Regions from separate parts of the Homo sapiens genome. Here all the other regions are reported to be linked to region 4. The links are microRNA targets in miRTarBase. Many come from high-throughput screens and were not tested one by one. Region 4 holds a microRNA gene; each other region holds the end of a gene's coding sequence.

Region 1 (4,368 bases), not on the chromosome of region 4:
GTCCCTCTCCCACCCCACCTGTGAGCTTGGGGTCTCCCCTCAGAGGCCTGAGGAGATGGTGTTCCCTGGGTGCTCCTGAGCACCAGCCCTCACTGCCAGGCTACTCTTGGAGCAGCACAAGGTTAGGATGTGCTGGCCACCGCCTTGGGGCTGGTGGCCGCCTGGGCACTCAGGGCCTCCTTTGGGCCGTCTTACCTCGTCTCTCTCCTCCAGGAGGCAACGCACGGGCCACAGGCATGTTCCTGCAGTATACAGTGCCGGGGACGGAGGGTGTGACCCAGCTGAAGCTGACAGTGGTGGAGGACGTGACTGTGGGCAGGAGGCAGGCGGTGGCGTGGCTAGTGGCCATGCACAAGGTACCTGAGCCCAGGCCAGGGAGGCTGGGCCCTTTGGCTTAGACAAAAGCTTGCCTTTCCCAGAGGAAGCTCTGTGTCCTGCCATTTGCCCCCTATCCCCACAACCTGTTCCCCCTCAGCTGGGGTGCCCACGCCATCTCCCCTGAAATGCACACAGGCTTGGCTCCACCAGGCACAGGACCAAGCAGGCCTCACTGTGTTGATCTTGTCTGATCTGCAGGCTGCCAAGCTCCTCTATGAATCTCGGGACCAGTAACTCTACGTGGGGCTGAGCTTGGAGTACGTGTGGTCACCAGGACTGAGTCGCTTGGAACAGCAGAGCCTGCTCCTTGCGTACCACAGGGATTAATCCTGCTTGTGCTGGGAAATGCAACTCACTCATGTATTTGGAGAAACAGGAGTGTTCACTTATCTAGTGCAATATGTTCACAGTTTATTAATGCTTTAAACAGCTTCATGTTTTAGAATTTGTGTATTGTCAATACTTAATTGGGGGTGGGAGAGACTGAGCTACACTACTGCTAAACTATTTTTAGCATAATATATACCATTTTTATGAGTTCGCAGGTCTACTAGAAGGTTCTGGCCCATCAATATTCATTTCATTTAATTCTTCCACAGAACCAGTTTGGGCAGTAGGAACTCAGGCTTCTGGTCTGCAGTGGAGCCTGTTCGCCTCTAATAGCCAGTTTACAGCACTTGCCTTAGCCTGTTTCACAGACTTGTCCACTTACCTTGTCACTAATTTGGGGCTTCTGGGCTGTGAGTGATCCTTTGATACTTCACCAAGGGGAACGTGGGGGCTTTGTGTTTTGTACTTTTCACTCACTATTTCACTTTATTAAGATGACTGTACAGCAATTTGTATATAAAGCTTATGATTAAAAACTATTTTGAACATACGGACAAGGCCTCGCCTTCCTGTGTCCAGATCACCTGAACCCTCGTGCCACAGCGCAGTCTGGGTCCAGAAAGAAGACTCACAGCCGCCGGGGTGAGACGGGTTTATTGTGCACATTTACACAGCGTCAGCAGCGTCTGGGCTGGCAGCGGCCATGCTCCTGTGGTCGGGCTGCTCTACAAGGGCGTTCACTTTTCTTCACCACACTATGTACAGTCAGTGCTCCAAGGTGATGGGCTACAGTGCTGCATCAGTGAGTCTGTACACACATTTTTACATAAATTACACACGACTCATACATGAAAAATAGAGCCTAAGGGCCTGTATTTTAATGAGAAAAAAAAAATTTCCAACATAGTTCGGGTAGCTTTGAATGGTCTAGTCAAAAAATACTTTTGGTATATAAAAAGCCTGTACGTACAATTCACACCTCAGTGAAGCGCCCTCCTTGCCTTGAGGCTGGGCCTGGGACAAAGGTGGCCTCACAGCCAGCCCAGGCAGGGAGATCGGCAGAGAGGGGTGGCCCCTGACCCCAGCTCCTCTGCCCCAGCTGCTGCTCCTTGGTGGCGGCCCCTCCTGACACCAGGCGTCTGCCATCCTTCAGGCACCAAACAGCCCCGTCTACCTGGCCCTGGTCTGCCCTCACACCAGTCCACCCCCAGCCCCAACCCCAACCACCCTCCGCTGCCACGGCCTCCAGCACCTGACTCCATTCAGGGAACTGAATTTGAGCTTGCAGGGGTGAGAACCACACTGAGCAGCATGACAGGCTGTGAGATCGGAGGAGAAGAGTATATGCTGAGGCTCTCCCAGTTGTCACTTGGTCTTAGGGGTCCTGGTGCCCGTGGCGCGGCAGTCCAGCCACAGTGCTGGGCCTGCACAATCAGCCTTTAGGTGAACTGGAACAGGAAGCGGAACCCCCAAGGCGGCCGAGCAGAGTGGGTACTGGGAGGCATACACACTGGGCAGCAACACTGGACATGTTTCCATACAGAGGCTCCTTTGGTGATGAAGGGAAGAAGGATCATGTGTGGGAAGTGTGAGAAAGGATGAGTGTCCGATTCGGTGACGGGGGGCAGGGCGGTCGCAGGGGAGCAGGCCTCACAGCGGCGGACAGTGTTCACTGCTGGAGGGGGTGATGGCCTCGGGGCCAAGTCAGTAAGAGCTTCTGTCTTCACTGGCAACCAACCGGGGGTTATGGGACTTCTTAATGGCAAGAGGGGTGGGTGTTTTGAAAGTGGGTATTTATTTGGATTTATAGTAATTGGCAAAATTCAGTCCTTGGAGGCGAAAGTACCTCTCCCAGTTAATGGGCAAACTGGAGAAAGGGCCTCACCTGGAAACTGTAGGATTCACATTGTGGACGCTGTCTGCTAAAGTGAGCACCATTAAGACCATTTTCTAGCTGCAGCTTTCCTGGAAAACAGCACAATAATCTCTTAAGTGGCTCCTGGTAGCTGGCAAGACCATGCGGTGCTCCAAAAGGAAGTTCAGGCGAGTGTTCGCTGTCGGGGTTTGATCCGTGGATACAGCTGGGAAGCAACGGAGCCGCGTCAGGACAGGAAGCCACACACAGGGAGCAGGGCCAGCCAGACCCGACCCCTGCTCCTCACCTCAGCCACCCTGGACAGCCGTGCAGCACCCTTGTCCCTCAGGCCTACGCTCAGCTGCACCTCTACACTGAGACCCACCCAGCCCTCTTTAAAATGTGCCTTGTACCCCCAGAATATCCTATTTTTCTCACAACACTTCATGCCACCTAAAGACTTGTGACTGCCTGTGGCTCTCAAGGTCATAAGCTCCCCTGGGCAAGGGTCTCTGCCTGGCTCCCTGCTGTGTTTGCCTGGCCAAGAACGTTGGCTCAACAGCAAGCCCCTGGCAGCTCTGCAGGGCACAAAGAGAGCAGAGGCAGCTCCCTCTGCCAGAGGACTGAGGGAATCACAAGTCCAACACAGAGCTAGCAGCCTGCACGTTCCCACCTCTCCCTCCACTGGAGAAATTTCTAGGCTGCAGAGATTTCTAGATTGGGGAAAGTGTGGGTGGGCTGAGCCGGGCCACTTGGTGAAGTTCATCATGAACCGAGCTCATTGAGCGGCCCCTCACTGGGGCACTCAGCCTCCGCACGGGCCTCCATGGCATAAGCATGGCTGGGGGAACCTCCTGGGGCCCTGCCTGAGCCTCATGCCAGCTCTGCCAAGTAGGCACCTCCCCCTCTACAGAGGGGGCTGCTGAGGCTCAGAGAAGCGAAGCCTCCCTCCCCAGCCCCACAGCAGGATAGGACCGCATGCTGTACAGAGACACGGGCAGCTAGTTTCCCAGTAAGTAACCTGAGTGCTCACCCCCAGCAGGTTTTTGGGCACATAGCCCTCCCGGTCTCCAAGGCGAGCCCACCACCACTCAGTCTCGCTTTCGTCCTTGCGCCTCAGGATGGTGAGGGCGTCCCCTTCGTGGAAGGACAGCTCGTCACTGTTCTGGGCCTCGTAGTCCCACAGAGCATACGCCACACCTTTGTTCATCACACCCAGCTTTTCCTGCACCCCTGGAGCCAGAGAGCAATGGTCAGGCCTCAGCAGAGGGTGGCCTGCAGCAAGGGACCCTGCTCGAGGAACAGGACACAGTCGTGCTGCTGCCGAGGCTGCTCTCAGCAGGCCCCACAGAGGCCAGCGAGGGAGATGAGACACTATTGAAGACTAGGGCCCCCACCCGATACCTCCCCTGCCCGGCCCAGCTGCTGCTCCTGCTGCCGGCCCTTTCTAAGTCCTGCAGGACAGACAGGACAAACGAGCTCCTGAGCCCCAGGGCAAGAGTGTGCTGTTCTTAAGGTGACGCTTAGCAATCACAGCCAGAACAGATTTCTAAAGTCACTAGCTAGAGCAGCTGTGACTGCTCTTGGATGGTAATGAACAAACTACACACAACTGAGCCCTGACTGAGCAGCTACTTGTGGGTTCCCAAGAAAGGGCCCTTCTGTGGGACACTCTGCTTCTGAGACCCAGTTGTGGTGACCATGGGGAGCTTCCCTTCCCTGTGGTGGTGCCACTGTGACGGCAGCCTCCTCCTCACACTGGCGGGACTCACCTGGGGGCTGCTGTGCCTCCCCTAGCCCTGCCA
Region 2 (4,410 bases), not on the chromosome of region 4:
ACTTTTATTTTCGTTGCAAAAGGTTTTATGACATTTAAGTCTTATTGGGACATTATTTTTAGTGACTGAAGGGCTTTGAACAAAGGCTTGTCAAGCTCCAATACTGAATGGTTCCATTGTGATTATTTATAAATCAGTTTTATTGTCAGTGTTGAGGTAATCAGAGATTAGCTCATGCCTAAAAGCATAACTAAAAAAATAATGACCCACTGAGAAACAGGATTTTGTTGAATTTTTCTCCTGCTACTTTATCTATAAACAATTTGCAGCCATCTAGCATTGAGAAAAGCTCTCTTAGGTAACATGCTAATCTTGTGCCATTCATAAAAAGCATCAAAGAGAACATTGTTCTTGATTTACCTGCACTGAAAATATATTAATGCTTGCTAATTTGGAATAATAATAAAGATCCTATGAGTAAGCTGTCATTTTTAAATTGACCCCCCAAATTACATGGGGCTGTCAGATGTCAAGAACTTGGGGCTTGCATTCTATCTACATTACACTGTCCCTGGATATTTTTTCGGACATGTGGAGACTAGCCTGAAATAGCACCCAATCATATCAGCAAGCATTCTCCATTTAAGAGAAAATAGAGACACTTTACCTCTGTTGAATTATGATATATGGTGGTTTTCATGGAATCCAGAACGATGAAGCAAGTACTTTTTCTCAGATAAGACTGGCAAGCTGGATGAAGATATGACTAAGTAACTCAGCACAGATTTTCTGAGTTACATAAATAAATGAAGCGAGCTCTACCACCAGCAGCAATTTGTCTCAAAGGGCATTAGTAAGCTCTCTGAAGTAAGAAAAGGCAACAGTGGCAAGAAATCATGTACTTCCTCTAAGTGTGATATACTAGAGAACATCATAGGATAATAATAGAGCTGGTTCAGCCTTTTCCAGGACAGATGTGTGATATTTTCACTAAGTTATGGACAGCACAGTGTTCTCTTAATGCCATCATAAAATTTAGTGCTAAAGGGACCTCAAGGTCCCTGAGAAGGCACTTTGACGGGCAGCTTTGCCAGGTTAAGAGTCCTATAGGCAGGTAACATGAGCAGAGAGGAGGGCACAGCACGGGGTCCATTGGACTCCACATCTCACGTCACACAGTTATGATTAAGACTTCTGAGGCCAGGTGCGGTGGCTCACACCTGTAATCCCAGCACTCTGGGAGGCCGAGGTGGGAGGATCACTTGAGCTCAGGAGTTCAAGACAAGCCTGGGTAACATGGTGAAACCCTATCTCTACAAAAAATACCAAAAAAACAAAAAAACAAAAAATTAGCCAGATGTGATTGCATGTGCCTGTAGTCCCAGCTACTCAGGAAGCTGAGGTGGGAGGATGGCTTCAGGCTGGGAGCGGAGGTTGCAGTCAGCCAAGATCATGCCACTGCATTCCAGCTTGGGCTACGGAGCGAGACCCCCGTCTCAAAAAAATATATATAAATAAATGAAATAAAAAAGACTTCTGTCAAGATAATTCAGTGAGGTAATGGATACGGCTGGCCCATGGTAAGTTCTTAATATGTGTGTGCCCTTAACCTTCCTATTTCTGTTGAACTGAATTTTTCAACCTTATCACTTCTCCCAATATGTGAGATTTCTGTCCTCTGGGCTACAAAGAACTCCTCATCCAAATATGGGAAGTTAGGAATCTTGTCAGCTTGGAGATTTTCCCCAGCTATTCCTCTTAGAACTCACCTATCCCAACCCCCCAGTGTTTGGTCATGCTGAACTGATGGAAGGAGTCTGCACTAACTAGAGCTTGGCTCACTGAATCAGCCGACAACTCAATCTGCCTATTAGGATAATCTAAGACAAAACCTTGTCTTTATCATCAGATGTCCTAGAGCATCAAGGTAAAGAAGTACAGGACTAGGATTATGGGTTGCTCTTTTTATTTTTATTCAAATAAATACAATACTTATGTATAGCCTGATTAATTTCCCTTGTCATATCTCTTTTTTCAGGTTTCAGGCTTAGATTTTTAGTTGTGCCATGCTATGGTCACATCATAACTGTTCTCTAAGTTGAAACAAGTATTTCAACAGGCAAATAGCAAACTCGCCAAAAGACCTGTGGGTCACTTGCCCAAATGAGGCCTACTGAGATGAGAACAAACATCTTTTTTTGGTAAAAACTCTATTTTTATAGTGTATCTTTGGATATAATGCAATTGTTTCTTCCCCTTCTTTCCCAGGCCAGGCACTTGAAAATAAGACATTTCAGGGATGGGCAACCCACTCCATTAACATCCACTGGACTCAATTTCCCAAGAAAATTAAAACAGTGTGAAAGAACACTGCATTTAGCATTTGGCATTTCAGTTAATGAGACTGATAATGACTGAAATATTTTTGATGTGCTAGAAGTCAATTCAGAAATGTAGGACTGGAGAAATTTCATTTGTTCTAAATGAGTCTTGCTTCCCCTGAAATTCCGTCTTTAAGCAGTAACTTCTTTAGTTCGAAATTAGTCTGATTAATATCACCTTTATTGGGAAGAACTATTATCCTCTCTGTGGCTTGGCCTCTGGTATCTACGTATATTAATTTAAATAAAAGTATGGCTTCAACTGATAATTGATGGTTCAGCTTACAAGGAACTAGTTTAGGCAGTCACCCTTCTTACATGAAGCCAGTTAGGGCTAATGCAACCTGTATGGTCAACTTCAGTTTAAAAATCTTAATTCTCATTGTAAGAAAGCAGCCAAATATAAAGCCTTGAGGCAAGTGGGTCTATGGAGTGGCAGATTTGGGAGTGTGGGGCCAGGGCCACGCTGCTCATGCTAATACACCATCAGTACAAACAGTGGCCCAGTTTTGACTTCCTCCAGCTCCAAGAGTCACCTCTGCAGAGTGGCTGTGGCATCTGAGAGAGCAGGGCTGGCACAGAGCCCCTGCCCTGCACGAATATCCCTGTGGAGTCCCCGGGAGGACAGAGGCAAGCCCTGCTTCTTAGCAACTTTCCACACTTCCTGCCTCTGATCCCACTTCCTCTGTAAAGATGCTATTTGGCTCAGCAGCAACCCAAGGGAGTGGGAATAAGGCTTGGTGTGTTGAGAACTGCTCCTGCCTCCTTTTGACAGCCAAGGCTGGCAAGGTTGTTTGGAAATCTGACAAAGAGCAAGTCTACTTTCTACAAGCAAAAAATCCCAACCACTTCACAGTCACTCCATTAAAGTAAAACTAAATCTCTCTGAAAAATAATATGCTTTGAAACCCTCTGTTACATTTATAAAAAGAAAAGGAAAAACAAAAAATTTCAAAGTTAAAAAAGAAACCTTTAAAAATATTGTAGCAATAGCCTTCTTCGTAACAAATATAAAACAGCTTAAGACACTTGGTGACTTTCTTAGTTCATCTGTGGGGGAATGGATACACAATGAGGTTTTACTACTAAAGTTAGCTATTTGGTAAAAACTCTAGGAAGAGTTCCATCAAGAAAATGGTTATTTTGGAAAGACAAGTTATGATTATTTCCAAAATGTCAAAAGAAATAAGAATGTAAACACCATATACTTAAAATGTTAATACAATAATATTAACTCAGTCAAATAAATAAAAGAAAGTGGCACCAAATTTATGGCAATTTTTCAAAACAAAAATGTAGCTTAAATATATTTTAAAATAAATAATTGGTTCAAATACGGACGACCATTCTCAGCACAAACTAACAACATTCAAAATAAAGTGCTATGAGAAAAAGTAGCCCCACAATCTTCAACTTATTCACATATGAACAGAGATACTATCTGGATCTTTAGGTCTGAAATATTCACCACGAGTGAAAGCTAGAGGCCAGGCTTAGGGCCATCTTTTGTCATTTTTCTTTTTTCTTCCAGCGTGTGCTTAAATATTTTCTTCAGGGTGTTGTAAACTGTTGGTCCATTTTCAGAATCAAAATTAACCTGGTGACAAAGAAATTTATATTCAGGACACTGTAACAAGAATTTGAACTAGTTTCTATTTTGAGAGAAGGAGGGGGTGGAGAAAAAAAACAGACTTACAAACAAAACTCTATATAAAATACACATAATAAATTTCACACATTTTATTTGAAAGACTATTAGAACTGCCAACCATGTCAATATCAAACTTATGAATGAAAACCCCAAAATTAAATCTAGTGCCTGGATATTTAGTCTAATTATATACACCCAGTCATGAAGCAAGTCAACAGTGGGTGTGAAGTGAATTTTTTGAGACTAATCATTGATGGTATAAGAGAAAAGTTTCCCATATTAAAACAGCACATCAGCTGTATACGTCCTGCTGAGAGGCCCTACGGCCACTCTGGACAGGGTCAGAGTGACCTGAATAGAAGCCCAGCTCCCCACCTGCCAGCTACATGTCCTCATCTCATACCCAACCTCTCTGGACCTTGATCTCCTCCTTTGTAA
Region 3 (4,410 bases), not on the chromosome of region 4:
CTGTCTATGTAATAAGTAAAAGGACAAGAAGGATGTTGACACATTTTAAAAGGTACAACAGGAGTGAGGGCAGGTAGCCTCAGCCTATTGGGGTGCATGGGAATGTGGGGGTAGAAAGAAAGGGGTGAGAATCAGAGAAAAGGTCTAACTCCTCAGAGGATGTGCGGATGGCCAGAACACTGACATTCTTCTACAGAGGCCTCACTATTCCTGGCTGTCCTGTCCCAAGCTGGTCTACCTGCTGCCCTGTTGGCCAGGATGACTTGTCTGTGCCACAGCACTGAATACCAGGCGTGCATTCTTCTCTCCCAACACTCGGCTTGCCATGGCCAGAAAAGACAAGTGTTTTAGAGGTATGGTTTCAGGCAGACACATCCTAGAATTAAAATTACTTCAGGGATATCTGCAGTAAAGCTGAAGGAAACACTCAAAAGGCCAAAGGAAGCAAGCTTTATTGAATTTACAACGTAGAAAATATTTGTAGTTCCTTAGACATTTGCATTGCTATAAAAATTACACTTTATGGTATAATTATTAAGGTTTGAAGAGAAATAAACAGTATAAACGAAATATGGCCCACACAATGAAAATGTAAACCATATAAATCAAAATCATAAAACAATTATTCAATACTCAGAGGCCTACTTAATATATACATATGAAATTTCTTACACACACACAATAAATGCCCACAAAAACCATCACTGAAGCCGATCACTGTACAAATATGAAAATAAATCTTTATCTTTAACCTCAATTTTATCTTCAGCAGGAGGGTTGTGCAACTTGGGTTTATGCAGATCACATCAAGTGTTAAATAATCAAATGTCACATATGTCATATAAAGCAGCAAGTGAAAAAAATAAATTATGAAAATGCATGGGCTAAAAGTTAACAGTGAAAAATATCTCCTTATCCAACATTATTTTCCACAATGAAATTAAAATATTTTACAATGTATCAGGATACATTTAAAAAAGGACTGTAGTATAACTATGATTTTAAAATATCTTAAAGAAAAACAGGGACAAGGTGAATAACTTCCATAGTAATATGCAAATGTATCAAGTCTAAGATAAAAACATTAAATATTTTTGTTCTTACTGAAAATGTGCTTTAAATTTGAGAACACCTTCATGAAATCAAAACGTTGGTAATAATCATGAATCTCCCAGCATACAGAGCTTTAAGAAGCTTCTCTTTAAACATGATTGCTAACCAGAGCTCTAAGTCTCTAATTTGGATTATGTTACCAAAATATTTATCAGGGCTCAAATACTTAAAGATGATTGGTTGACCATCAAAGGCACTGGTGTAATCTCATCAACGTGGCTATACTGACAGGACAATCCAGAGGTAAAGACTATGAAAATACTTCTGTATTATGGTATACTCTTTCACAGATTGTAAAACAAATATAAAGAGACACTTTGGAGAGAATAAATAAAGGCAACACAGTAACATATAAACTAACACAGTTTTGTGCAACTGCACCAAAACCTAAACATGTGTCCCATATATCAGCATCTACATATATCTGATCCAATGTCATCAAAAGATGCCACTAAGACAAACAGCCATGGCAAAAGTTTTCCCATGCCACATAAATAATACCCCCCTTATTTTGAAAAATTTCCCATATGCAAGACATTCTTTATGATCAGAAATGTAATCTTTTCTTTTTCTGGAACCAGGAAACAGGAATTCATGGCAGAGTTACTGAGGATAGATCCAACTTTCCAGCAAAAATATCAGATGTCTTCAATAGAGAGAAGGCATGTTTATAAAAGTTAAATGATGTTGTAGCTATTTATAATCTTTGCCTGTAACTATCCGGTCAATTCCCATTTTTTCAAAAAACTGATGCTTGCGGAATTTAAGGTTCTATCACAAACACCGTGAACAGAAAAAAGATTGCTACATGGAATTGTTTCGATTCAACAAAAATAAATGTTTTTAGCTTATACAATACAATAAATAACAGCTACTTTTTAAGTTCCTTCAGCAAGCTACTTGGGGCCTGGACCTAGATGAAGCAAGGTAAATTAGAATCTTTTGTTGTAGCCCACCCTAGGCTCAAGTGTTGACTCCTTTGGCTCTTAGAGGCATCTCAGTGGGGAGGTCTGGGAAGCAATGCAGGTTCTGGAAGGAGAGTAGGCCCAACCAGGTCACTGGTGATGATGAGCCACTAGTCACATTAAACAAAGGACCCTGACTCACCTTTCCTAATGGTGATTCCTCTTTCAAGGATATTATTTCAAAACCATGCATAGAATTTCTTTCATTGATTATTACTTAAGGAAGTTAATGTTAGCAACCAGGGAGTTAGGGGACTTGCATTACATTACAGGTTATGCTTCTAAACCATGGGAAGGTTTGAAATCAGCAGGGATACGAAAATGAAAATTTTGCAAAATGTTACATCACTCTAAGTACTAGCATTTTTTTTAGTGAGATAATTCACAACCATAAAATTCACCCTTTCAAAGTATACAATTCAGTGGTTCCTAGTACATTCAAACAGTTATACAACTATCACCACTATTCCAATTCCAGAACATTCTCATCATCGCCCAAAGAAACCACATACCTATTAGCAGTCACTCCCCATCCTCCCTTTCTCAGCCCCTGGCAACCACTCCCTTAAGTGAAGAGTGACAACTTTCCTGGGCATTGTGCTTTCAGTAGTATGTGGCTTTACATGTTTCCATTAGAATTTTTAACACCAAATTCAAGCAGTGAGCTTTGTAACTATTCTGAGATTATGAAATATCCTTTTATATACAACTATTTTTGTCTCAAACATGTTTCTTTATACATAAAAAATAGATATTTCTGTTTCCATTTTTTAATCAAATTCTGTCCTTATTTCAGAAGTGAGAAAAATCAATACTCCAATATTAAAAAGCAGGAATAACCATAGTTCTATTATTAACTGTGGGCCACCACACTCTCTGTCCTACTGCTTCCCACAGAATCTGAGGTGCCAAGGGCTGCAAGGCCTTTGAGGGCAAGCTGCACATTTTACAGATGAAGAAACAGATCCGACATGGGCTTGTGACATGTCCAAGGTCACAAGGCCAGTTAACAGCAAAGCTAGGATGAGAATCCCTTCTTACTAGAACTTTAGTATCAAATATTTAAATGCTGACTTTGTGGGTAACCTAATTCAGCTACCACATGAATCTAATTATGTCAGTTTCCTCTACAGCTTTGATCTGAGCATGTGATTTCTTTTCTTTTCTTTTTTTTTACCATTTTAAAAACATTTACATGTTATCTTTTAAGACCTGTAAGGACATGACTAGTCTATTTAGCCAGAGGGCCCAAATCACTCACTGAGACAAAACAAAGAAGAGCCAAAGTTCCAGAGGGACCTGAGAGCTGGGTTCAGGTTTCCTGCACTGTAACTCTCCATAGGACAGTGTCAGTAGGATGTGCCACTCTGTTAAGAGCCAAATAAGTCACACAAATTCAGTATTCTGGAAATGAAGACTTCACAGGCCAAGGATGTTTGGGATTTAGCCATTGCAACAATTCTTCATCTGTGGTGACTTTTTGGAATTGGTCCCGGTTAGATTGGTAATGGATCTGCTGTCATCCTTGTCAGTTCTCTTTTTCACTTCTCTGAGACAGAGATAGAGAGAGACAGAGAGAGAGAGAGAGAGAGAGAGAGAGGATTACTGAGGTATAAAAACTAAGCCACAGATGGTTCTGTAGAAATAAAAATAGCCATGCTGAGTGTCTGCACGGCCTTATAGACATTGTTTTAATGCTTTATAGGTCTTGACTTAATCTTCATAAGAACCATATAAATTTGCTGTGCCCCATTTTGTATGTGAGGAAATGAGGGCAAAAAGAGGTTAAGACAGTTCCCTTAGGTCACATGACTACAGAAGTGGGATTAAAACCACACAGGCTGGCTCCAGCACCTGTTTTCTGAGTACCAGGCCACACACACACACACACACACACACACACACACACACACACACACACACCCTTCTCCCCTCACTCTCTCCTGAGGTTTCAGGATGCTGCAGAACCTGCGATACACACAGCTTGCTCCTTAACACTCTGGAACCAGGTTTCCAGCTTCATGTAATGGTTGCTGAGCTTAACAAAAGCAATGGTGATTTTATAACCGTTCTTTAATTATACATGATCATGGAGGTAACAATGGATTTACCACCATCCCTTTCTGTCATCGTAAGCTTCTTCCAGTATTAACTGCTAGAGGCAAGACTCACGAAAAAATGTCTTACTCTCCAAGATCTTATGAAAACCCCCTAAGGAAGTATCCTTCCAGGTGTAGCCACTGGGGATGCTTGTGAAATATGAAGACCAGAAGTCTCACCTTAGACAAGCTGAACGGCTATCTCTGCCAGCGAGATGAGTGCCTCCCTAAGA
Region 4 (4,410 bases):
CCGGAAGCCACCTGCCCAGGGCATGAGAGAGGGTCCCCAGCCCTCCCGCGGGCCCACCCCCTTCTGTTTCCTGTCAGTCTGTCCTCCCCAGGGAGGGAGGGAGGGAGGGCGCTCATCCCCTGCGGGCGGGGGCGGGGCGCGCTCTGAGACCGTTGGGCGCCCTGAGATCTGGCCCACGTGGCCTCGGGGTTATAAGCCCTGCCCTCCCTGAAGGGAACCCCACTTCGGAGCCTGGAGCACAGGGCGAGCTCTCCTCCGCCCTGCAGCCTCAGGTAAGGATCCGGACCTTCACTGCTGCCCCAACTGGGGCTCCTCAGCTCGGGGCCTCTAGGGGCTTGGGCTGCTGGTCTGGGTGGAGGCGCGTTGGGGGTGTCGAGGAGCTTGGGTGCAAGCCCCATGCGGGAAGCTCAGGGCAAAGCGCCTTGAAACCCTCTCTAGTGAAGGAAGGTAAAATGGCTCCGGGACCCCAGGCGGGGAAAGAGGTGTCCAAGGAGGAGGGCTGGAGAGTAAGGCGGGGATGGCAGAGGGTACGCAGAGGCTGAGAAGTGGGACCAGTGTCTCAAGGGGCGCCAGCCTCTTCCTCCGCCCAACATGGCCACCATTTTTGTTGGGATAGCCTTGGGCTCCTGCCAGGGGAACAGCAGGGCAGTGAGGGAGTCAGGACTTTGGGCTGGTGGGGAGGCCGAGAATCAAGGCTCTGGGGAGTCAGGACTTTGGGGCTGGTGGAGTGGCTGGGGACTGAGGCCCTGGGGGGTCAGGACCTTGGGCTGCTATGGAGGCTGGGACTGAGGCTCTGGGGGAGTCAGGACCTTGAGCTGGTGGGGAGGCTGGGAATTGAGGCCCTGGTGTGTTCAAGACCTTGGGCTGGTGGGGAGGCCAGGGCCTGAGGCCCTGGGGGGTCAGGACCCTGGGCTGTTGGGGAGGCTGGGGACTTAGGCCCTGGGGGGTCAGGATCTTGGGCTGGTGGGGAGGCTGAAGGGTGGGGACTGAGGCTCTGGGCAGTCAGGACCTCACGGTTGGGGTGGACTGGAGACCAAGACCTTGGCAGGGGAGCTGTGGCTGCCTCATTTGGACGCTGGAGGGTGGCTAGCGTGGCTGGAAGCGGCCAGCCAGGGGTTCACAGAACTGAAGGTGAGGCCTCCAGAGGCCCTAGTCTCTACCTGAGTGTCTCTGAAACTGGGGGGATGGGGTGGAGCCTTTAGGGGGAAGGGAAGAGGGAACTGAAGAGGAAGTGGGGGAGGGAGGTAGAGGAGGCAAGTCTGGCGCCATGCTGAGTCACCGCCCACAAGGCCCAGGGCGGGCCCTCGGGGGGCCCTGGCAGGGTTGGGGGGATCTTAGGAAGCCACAAGGAGGGCTGGGGGGCTCTTGGAGCAGGAGTCAGGAGGCCTGGGCAGCCTGAAGAGTACACGCCGACGGACAGACAGACAGTGCAGTCACCCATAAAGTAGAAAGCACTACTAACAGCACTGGAGGGTGTAGTGTTTCCTACTTTATGGATGAGTGTACTGTGGGCTTCGGAGATCACGCCACTGCTGCCGCCCGCTGCCCGCCACCATCTTCCTCGGCGCTCGGGGACCTCGTGTGACAGGTGAGCACCTTACGGCCCCTCCCTACCCTGCCCAGATGCCTGAAAGGCCTCCATGGCTTTCCTGCCCTTCCTGGTTCCGGACAGCTGGGGAAAGGCCACAGCAGCTCCTCTGCTGCCCTGCAGTCTTTGGGGGCGGGGAGGGCTGGACATGTGGAACCCTGATGCAGCCGCAGCGTCAAGGACGAGGAAGGGGTGGGAAGGGATGGTACGTGGAGGGGAATGGGTGGTGGGACCAGGGACCCAATGCTAATAAAGACTGGACTGTGCTTCTCTTTTGTCTGAGACTCTGTTGCTGGGGTGGGGAGCTGAATGCGGGCGGCAGGCACATGGACAGTATGGGCGCACAGAAGGGCTGGGAGGGAGAACCTCTGTCGCTCCTCCAGAAGATACGGGTTTGGCCCTGCCTATGAGATCAGAAGAGGGCTCTGGGCCTGGCCAGGCCACAGCCGGAGGAGAGAAGGGCCTGGGCCATCTGCAGAAAGGGGCAGGGATGTAAGGCATCCTCTCACCTTCTACCCTAGCTCTGGCCCTATCCTGCCCCCCTACATACCCAAACTGAAAGCTGCCTACATCCAGTTTTAATCTAAGAAAGTCTAGGGGGTCCTAGGTCATATAAAAATTGGGCAAAATCCACTGTGGCACATACACAGCATCTTAGACAAGGGCACAGACACTCATATACAAAGCACACACTGAGATGCAAATGCATTTACACACAGAGGCCCCATTCAGTGTGCCAGTAACACACACACAGACACATGTGACATGACTGGCATGACACACACAGGGATTACACACACCCAGGGCACATACATATTCAGTAGTACACACATGCAATGATAGAAACATAGGGCGTGTCTTACACATAGAAGAGCACACACATACAGTGACATTTGCATAATAAACACGGTGGCTCCATACACATACATAGATAGAGACATGTTCATATATCATGATAAATATAGAATACATAGATACATGGTGATATATATATATAAATCAAACCATGTCATTATGCATATTTACATGACGATATGAGCATGTCATATATTGTGTAATCAATTACTACATTGTGCCATATAGTAGCATCCATATCTATATATATCATGATGTGTTGTAATTTATAAACTCATGCAATGATAGCCTCCCATGCACATAACAGCACACACATAGACACAGTGGCAAACAAACATAGATGCAATGACACAGAAACATACATACAGATACACCCAATGTGTTTTTGTTACGTTTTATTATGTGACTCATAGACACATAATAGCACACACATATATACACACAATGGCCCCTTCACATATACAGAAATAGATAATGTCTATTCTATAGATGCATACTATACACACGCATGCGCATAATGGCATGCATATATACTCTGACCTAAACAGCAACACATCATGCAGTGGCGTGCGTGTTGACCTACACACTGCTTTAGGGAAGTGAAGATGTCCACTCCTCCCCATGCACCCCCTACCTCCAGTTCCATTGGCTCTTGCCTGGGTGGAGCCCACAGTCAGGGGCTCTAGGGTTCAGTATCACCGCTGCTATTCTGTGGGGGTGCCACACGAGGGCCCCCGACCTTGGCTGAAACTGGCTTGCCTAATGAGTCCCGGGTTCAGAGTGGAGAGGGGCTGCCTCTCGGGGCTTCTCCCAACACCCCTGGCTCTGGGGACTCTGTCTAGACCCCTGCCACTGCATATAGACTGACTCCTGGCTGAGGGGATTCTCACGTCCTTGTCCCCCAAATTATTTAGCAACAAGATCTAAGGCTAGACAGAAGATGAACTTCCAGGCAATTCGGGACAAAGCCAACCCAACAGGCCATGTGGGCTTCCCTGGTGGCCTGGGACAGCCAGGTTGCCCCCCAAGTGCAATCTGCCAGGAGGAAGCAGAAGGAATTCTCCGTCTATTTCTACCTGTCTCTTTGCTTGTCTTCCCGGTTTCTTTCTCTTGGTTTCTGTCTCTCTCTTTGTTTCATCTCAAGTCCCATCTTTTCTAGTTCTGCCCTTCTCTGTGGCTGGATCTCTGTCATACCCTCCCCCGTTCTGTCTCTATCAGTCTCACCCGATGTAGGGAGGACCATCTGCACCCCACTCGCCTCTGTACTCCGGAAGGTGTGAGAATGTGTGAAGATGAGGGTGGGAGGCCACATGTGGGAGCCCTGGGCTGACATGCCGTGAGAAACCTGCTCTTCCTTCTGTCCCCGACCCTGTCAGCCGGTTCAGCCCACCAGTCCAGCGCCATCACCATGGAAACCAGCAGCCGACTTCCTATTGGTGGGTGGGAGGGGAGGAGGAGGAGGAGGAGGGGAGGGCTGGCTCTTCCCGGCTCACCCCCCCACCCAATTCTGAGGCTCAGCCCTCCTCGGAGCCCACCATCTCGAGGCTCCTGGACTGTAAGGGACCCCTGCAGTCCCCAGAGCAGAGGCCAGCAGGGGCTGAGACTATGAGGCAAGCAGCCCATCGACCCAGGCCTCCTTAGGACCAGCCCAGCCACCCAGCAAGCGAAAGAGCAGCAGCAGAGAGCAGAGCCGGAGATAAAGGACCACAGCGGACCACTGGGGATCACCCCCAGCAGCTCCTGAAGCCTCTGGCCGGGCTGAGGGGTTGCGACAGACGGCCAGACCCACAGACACTGACAGACACACAACGACACCGATGCACACAGCTGCACGACACTGACACACTCAGATACAACCAGGGACAGCATCACATACTGCCACAGCCCTGCAATACAGACACCCACACACACACACACAAACAACTGGCAACTCTGAAATGGGCAGACAGTGACACACAGCACCACCC

The links. The annotated mature microRNA hsa-miR-142-5p reads CAUAAAGUAGAAAGCACUACU and lies in region 4 at 1,439-1,459, shown strand. An mRNA with a match to its seed (bases 2 to 7 or 8) in the 3' UTR can be bound and repressed. Matches are read on the target gene's strand: a 7mer-m8 pairs with bases 2 to 8, a 7mer-A1 pairs with bases 2 to 7 and ends in A, and an 8mer does both.
Region 1: miRTarBase lists ZFYVE21 as a target of hsa-miR-142-5p. Seed matches in the 3' UTR shown: 7mer-m8 at 1,192-1,198.
Region 2: miRTarBase lists PTPDC1 as a target of hsa-miR-142-5p. Seed matches in the 3' UTR shown: 7mer-m8 at 3,696-3,702 and 7mer-A1 at 2,723-2,729.
Region 3: the mRNA of RASEF is a reported target of hsa-miR-142-5p. Seed matches in the 3' UTR shown: 7mer-A1 at 1,417-1,423 and 7mer-A1 at 841-847.

The regions. Positions count from the first base shown.
Region 1 is chr14:103,732,407-103,736,774 of GRCh38, forward strand. It overlaps ZFYVE21 (zinc finger FYVE-type containing 21), which reads left to right. Exons shown (of 7, transcript NM_024071.4): 6 at 214-356; 7 at 577-1,258. The coding sequence ends at 612. It overlaps PPP1R13B (protein phosphatase 1 regulatory subunit 13B), which reads right to left. Exons shown (of 17, transcript NM_015316.3): 16 at 3,597-3,796; 17 at 789-2,789. The coding sequence ends at 2,748. Among named protein-coding and RNA genes, the nearest start is that of ZFYVE21, 19 kb to the left of the region's middle.
Region 2 is chr9:94,107,336-94,111,745 of GRCh38, reverse strand. It overlaps PTPDC1 (protein tyrosine phosphatase domain containing 1), which reads right to left. Exons shown (of 9, transcript NM_001253829.2): 9 at 1,893-3,918. The coding sequence ends at 3,802. Among named protein-coding and RNA genes, the nearest start is that of PTPDC1, 25 kb to the right of the region's middle.
Region 3 is chr9:82,979,156-82,983,565 of GRCh38, forward strand. RASEF (RAS and EF-hand domain containing) reads right to left here. Exons shown (of 17, transcript NM_152573.4): 17 at 435-3,627. The coding sequence ends at 3,522. Among named protein-coding and RNA genes, the nearest start is that of RASEF, 82 kb to the right of the region's middle.
Region 4 is chr17:58,328,332-58,332,741 of GRCh38, reverse strand. It overlaps MIR142 (microRNA 142), which reads left to right and starts at 1,424; the gene lies at 1,424-1,510. It overlaps TSPOAP1 (TSPO associated protein 1), which reads left to right and starts at 3,947. Exons shown (of 32, transcript NM_004758.4): 1 at 3,947-4,410. The region is part of intron 2 of TSPOAP1-AS1 (TSPOAP1, SUPT4H1 and RNF43 antisense RNA 1); the gene reads right to left. MIR142HG (MIR142 host genes) reads left to right here and starts at 222. Exons shown (of 1, transcript NR_186557.1): 1 at 222-1,854. RefSeq lists a silencer at 1-214 and enhancers at 325-394, 1,195-1,334, 3,125-3,204, 3,305-3,474, 4,005-4,074.